Linked DNA regions of Homo sapiens: region 2 is linked to region 1. The links come from fine-mapping of genetic effects on gene expression. A gene starts in region 1. The other region holds a variant in brackets. All regions are shown on one strand. Distances are between the middles of the regions.

The links. PIP is the estimated chance that this variant, and not a neighbour inherited with it, causes the effect.
Region 2: its variant is fine-mapped to the expression of RNF182 in whole blood (TOPMed, PIP 0.93).

What each region holds. Positions count from the first base shown.
Region 1 is chr6:13,923,327-13,926,237 of GRCh38, reverse strand. It overlaps RNF182 (ring finger protein 182), which reads right to left and starts at 1,286. Exons shown (of 3, transcript NM_152737.4): 1 at 1,215-1,286. RefSeq lists an enhancer at 1,891-2,391.
Region 2 is chr6:13,977,071-13,979,981 of GRCh38, reverse strand. It overlaps RNF182 (ring finger protein 182), which reads right to left. Exons shown (of 3, transcript NM_152737.4): 3 at 1-2,911. The coding sequence starts at 2,862. The coding sequence ends at 2,119. Among named protein-coding and RNA genes, the nearest start is that of RNF182, 54 kb to the right of the region's middle. The variant C/A (reference allele first, on the strand shown) is at 1,359.

The DNA of each region.
Region 1 (2,911 bases):
AAAATATAATTTCTTGCATTCCATATAGTTCTTTAAATGACCTATTCCAACTTATACATTATTTTACTAAGTTGGATATACAATTTTATATGTTAGATTATTTTCCAGTTATCAATATGACATCTCATATTGTTTAAATATGATTTAAAACAAATCTTATTAACATATATACAATTTCCTTCTGAATTGATCAACTGTATTTCTGAAAATGTATCTGTTTTCTTTCATATTACTACATGTAAGATGATGTCTAAGTACCAAAAAAAAAAGTCTTCACAGTCACAATTTAAATCTGTGCTTCGCGTCTGCAACAAACTATCACGAAATGATTGCAAGGGTTGGGGCCACTGAGAAAGGTACCTATAACCTATCCAGTGCCCCAGTGGCAACCGCATCGTGGTCCTCATCATCCCACTCATAAACACCGATGCAAACACCGCCCAGCTACCTGCCTCCAGAGGTGCTTTGGATTGCCTCCCTACACATAAAAACAAAAGGCACTTTCCAGTTCCTTACAGCATGAACACAATACCTTCTAGAAACAAAAGCAATGACCTCGGTGCCAAGTATCTCCTTGACAAAGTATCGGTACTGCTCTACATTCTGGTCTTGCTAGTCGGGGAAAGCCGGGCTACCCTTACCATCCAGTTATAGGTGCAACTGCACCTTCCAAAGAAAAAAAGGTCTTTCGATTCAATATCCAAACGAACTTCAGAAGCCTCCTCAAAATGCTTCAGCCACAGGCATAAAAATGGGCTCACTTTTCAGAGATTCGTAAAAATCTTTCGCTTGTCCCTCTTACTACCCTCCCAACCCCTCCTCAAAGAGAATGCCATGAAACATGAAAGTCCAAAGGTAAATACTTTCATACCTTTTTTTCCCCCAAAAGCCTCGATGGCACGCCAAGAAGGAAAATAACAACAACAACAGAGGGGCAGCTCCCTGAGCAGGTGCAGCCCGCGCGGGCGCTCCGCAGCCGCCCTCCGCCGCACAGCCCCTCAAGTTGGTGCCAGGACGGCGGCCCCCGTGGTGCCCGGAGGGAGACTCCGCGCGCGGGCCCCGGCGCCGCTCGGCCCGAAGTTTGCCGCCCCCTCTCCTCGGCGCGCTTGGGCGGCCCGGCGCCGTCCAGGACTGCGGGGCTGGCTGCTGCCCCAGCGTTGGGGAGGCCCGGCGTCCCGCCGACCCCTCCCCGGCCGCGGGCGCGATCGCCTTACCTGGCCGGCGGCGGCCCAGGGCCCGGGAGCCGCTCCGGCTGCGGCGGCGCCTGGGAGGGGAGGGAGGTTCCCGTGGAGGAGGAGCTCGCGCGAGGAGCTAGCGGGCTGGCGGGCGGGCGGCTTTGTCTCTACGGCGCTGAGCCGCCGACCCTGCGTCACCATGGCAACCGCCGGGGCCCCCCCGGCCCTTCCCCTCAGCAGTCCGGGTATTCGGAGAGGACAAGGACCCCCGATGGGCCGCCACCACCACAAACACGCCCCTCTCTCAGTCTCCCTCACAAACCGCCTGTTTCTCCCCAGCGAGAGGGGAAGGCTAAAGCGGAGCGAGCCCAGGGCCAAGTGGTATTCGCATCCTAGTAGGCACTCCTTTGCTTCCCCACACTGGACATTCCAACTCCCGTCGCACCACCATCCCCCCCACAGACACCCTCCACCACTACCACCACCACACCTTTCTCCTGTGGAGCTGTACCCTCAAAATGGAAATTCACTTAAGGGAGGAGAAAGAGCAATGCAAAGTGATAAAGTGTTGAGCAACTGGTACTCGGTTCTCCTGTTGCAACTGCCGCAGCATGCACGGAGCTGCCAAGGGACGCCGTGCCGCCTCCTCCCTCTCCCCCTCCTCCTCCTCTCTCTTTTAGCAAGCTTTGCCTCTGCTGGATGTGGTCTCACTCCACCCAACCCGTGTATCTGTCTTGTTGAGGGCTCCCGTAGGAGAGAGGGGAAAGGGGGCTTTATCTCTGATGTAAACACTGGATACACTTGTAACCTCAGAAGCTGAAACACAACTTTCAGGCTGCAGTATGGATCTCAGCTGCTGCCACACTGCGCAGCTACTGGCTGTGACCGCTAAGCATCTACCATGAGCCCTGAGTGACTCTGTGCCAAGGACTGGTCACGTACTGCAGGCCATGGCACTCAGGAGCAGAGAAAAGAAAGCTAACTTTTTCCTCTCCTGAGGAAATTCTTAGAGAGGGAGAGAAAAGTACCAGCAGACCCTTGGTCATGCTTCCTCTAAAGGACGAACTAGAGGGCAGCCTCCATGGGGGGAGTGAGTCATCCCTCCATACTGTTTTCTTGAAAGATCCGTTGCTGAATCCAAAAGCTACAGTGTCTTTCTTCAAACCCTGGGGAACATGACATTTATTTTTTGGCATTTGTGAATCACCAAAGGAATGTCAATGATTTATAATAAAATCCACGGTAGCTGATGTTTTCTGGGTTTACTACTTGAGAAGCCACAAAGCAGAACAATGTTATTGCCATTTGAAGGTACACCTATATTAACTAATGAAAAGATAAGATCTATTTCATGGTGGAAAAGGAAAACAGTTTGTTCCTCGGAGAGACTGGCCACTTTCTTGTAATGGGAATATTCTGAATGAAGTCAATAATATTCCAGATGAAGTCAAAAGACAAGGTCTTTTTGGCAGGCCATTAAGCATTTGGCAATACCTGCCAGAATTCAAAATGCACATACATTTCTCCCAGCTATCTCAATTCTAGAGATCTGTCATACAGAAACACACAAATGTGTAATGATAGATATAAAAGGATATGCATTGCAGAAGTTTTGTAATAGTAAATGTTTGAAACAACTTATATGCCCATCAATAGTGATATGGTTAAATAATGTGGCACTTCATACCATGTAATACTATGCATCCATTAATAAGAATAAAATATATAAAATTCAT
Region 2 (2,911 bases), 54 kb before region 1:
GACAAACAAAATAGTATCACAGTGAATAAAATATTAAAGCATTATCTTTTTATCATTCAATAGCATGAAGAGTTTTCTGGTGTCATACAAAGATTGCTCTCTAAAGCCAAATTAACTAGAAAAAAAGACTGCCACAATACACGGAGACACAAGTTTATCACTGTAGACATTATACAGAGAAGCAAAACACATCGTACCCATGTCCAGAGCTTTCTAGAAATCTCATTATATAACTCACCAATTTACTCAATGTTACATTTCAAACAAAACGAACATTTTTTTAAAAAAACCTTACAAATATATAAATCCAAACCACAAAACATCTTCTAAACATGGTATTTACTCTAAACACAAATGGATTTCTGGAAATTGCATCACAATGCTATCTAAACTAGATTTTATGAAATCATAAATGTATTTAGCTGTATCTTGGGGCTTAAATTCATTGGACCATATCCCATGTATACTATTCTCATCCTACTTACTTTGGGCATACATATTCCCGAAGTTTAGTTTTACAATTAAAATCAAACTGCTATTCCAGTTGGAATGGGCGCACTGTACCTGCATCACACAACAAAGATTTCATAACAAGTTAAAGTCGTCTTAGTAATGCCCCCTTTCTAAGAGTTACAAATATTTTAATGTTAATCATTAGTAATGGGTTTTAGAGACTAGAATGTTTTTTTAAATTTTTGCCTAGTTTCTGTGAACAGTCTATTTTGCCAACTTGTAATCTGCTAAACAAATTCTTCTTAGAAATATATACATTCAACTTTCCCTACATCATGAAAAGAAGTTCATTAACTCAAATCACCTAGATTATGCTTGTATTCAAAATAAATTGTGTAAGAACTTGAATCCATTCCAAAACCAACTCAAAAACAACAGGGATAGCAACATGTTAAGCTGCACTCTGCCCCTGCCATTTTACTTCCTTGAAGGGTCTTTTCAAGCAGGGCTTCAGCTTTGCATGTCTCTTGCCCACCCCTTTGTCTAGACTACAACACAAAGTCTTGCACATAAACCTAAACCATCATATTTTGGTACAGCTCAGTACCGTACAGCAAAATACTTAGGTTCTCAGCACTTCAAACTGTGAGCTGAAGCATCTCATTAACTGTTTCTGGTTTTCATTGCCACAGTTCACCTCGAATTGTTATAAGATTCAGTTAAGTAAATCCTAATAGAACCAAAAATATAATAGGGAAAAAAAGTATTGATGAATTTATAGCAACTAATTTAAATGGAACCTTTTCAGGACAAGGGGTGAGGCTGATTGGGCAATGTGGTTTAAAAAAACCAAAACTAAGATGTTATAAGGAAAGACTCAAATGAAGGTTTTCATCAATAATAAC[C/A]GCTGTATGAGAAGTTCCTTCTCCTCCATTCTTCTCAGATAAGACTGAGGAGAGAGGAAAACAGACATGGAGGAAAGAGTGTGTCTCAAGGACAAATGGCCACATTCTGCCATGAAGCTGACTGTGATGCAAATTCCTCAGTGCTTTTCATTCTCCTTAGTAATGTGGCAAAACTGGTATTCAGTTGAAACTACCCAAGGGAATGGAACCGAGTTTCCTCTTGGCAAGGGAGAATGGGCAGAGGAAACAAGTATCTCAATGGGATCGCCGACCACAGAGAGTGACTTAAGAGAGAAAACACCTGAAGACAATTCTAGGGTGTTCCAATACCAGGGGTATGGGGTGGGAAAGGAGTACACACTTTGTGTCTCAGAGCAACTTTCCTCTTGTGTCCAACTGCCATCATAGAACATCCATGAATACGAAAGGAGGGATCCATGCTCTCCCTATAGTATAACACACCACACCCCTGCCGTCTGTCTGGCAGTGCTGAGAGAAACCCTGTCCTTTCTCTGGGAAGACTCACTGCTGTCAGTGCTCCATGAAGTGTGAGCTTATACAATTTTGCTAACCCCTAAGTAGAAATGAACATTTTTACTTCCAGCCTACAGGAAAACCAATCAAGTCAACATGTGGCCAAGGGTTTTGTTAATGTCATGGATACTAATCATAAAGAACATAAAAGAAAATAAATTATAAATTATCTAACTTCACACTCAAACAGGGCAATGTGTGTCCAATTTCTTATTTTGCATATCAGTTAAGAAGGAGGTGCCATACAGTCTAGAAATTCATGACAAACACACTGGCAAAAACCATACACCATAAGAATAACGAGGCTCGAAGGGACCAGGCTGACAAAGACGACCCCAAGGGTGACTTTCTTAGACACCAGTAAGTAGATTCCTAAGGGTAAGGAGCTGAAGTAGAGCAAACCTAGCAACCACACTAACACCCGGATGGATGTCTGAAACAGCAGGGACGTGCAGTTCCACACAGTCCAGTTGTGTGACACAGTGGTGACAGAGTCGAAACTCGCAGGCCTATAAAATTCTACCACAGGAGTGGAGCTCAGGGACGGGGAGCTCTCTCTCTGCACCTCCATGATGGTTATGACCAGGCAGTTGGAGGACGTGTGAGAAGGACTGACCAGAGAGGCCAGCCTCTTGGGGGTGAGCAGCAGCTCAGTAGGGTTCTCTGGCAGGCACTTCTTCCCTTTGCCTCCACAAGTCAAGTTTACAAGGATGTTGTTGTCATCGGGCAGGCTACTAACTTCATCATCTGGCAGGCACGTCTCAAACCTGCAGAAAGGACAGACAATGACACCTTGTGGGGAGTCCCCAAAGTCTATGATCTTGTAGAGGCATTTGGCACAAACCCTATGACAACACTCCAGCACTTTGGGTTTCCTCTGTTTCAGATTGTATCGATTGTAACAGATTTTGCACTCCAGCTCATCAGAGGCCTGAGACTCCGCAGTGTCTTCAGGAGGTTGACTGGCCATCTTGAATTATGTGTGCAATCTTATGCCAGGTGGGTCTTGTTGAAGAATG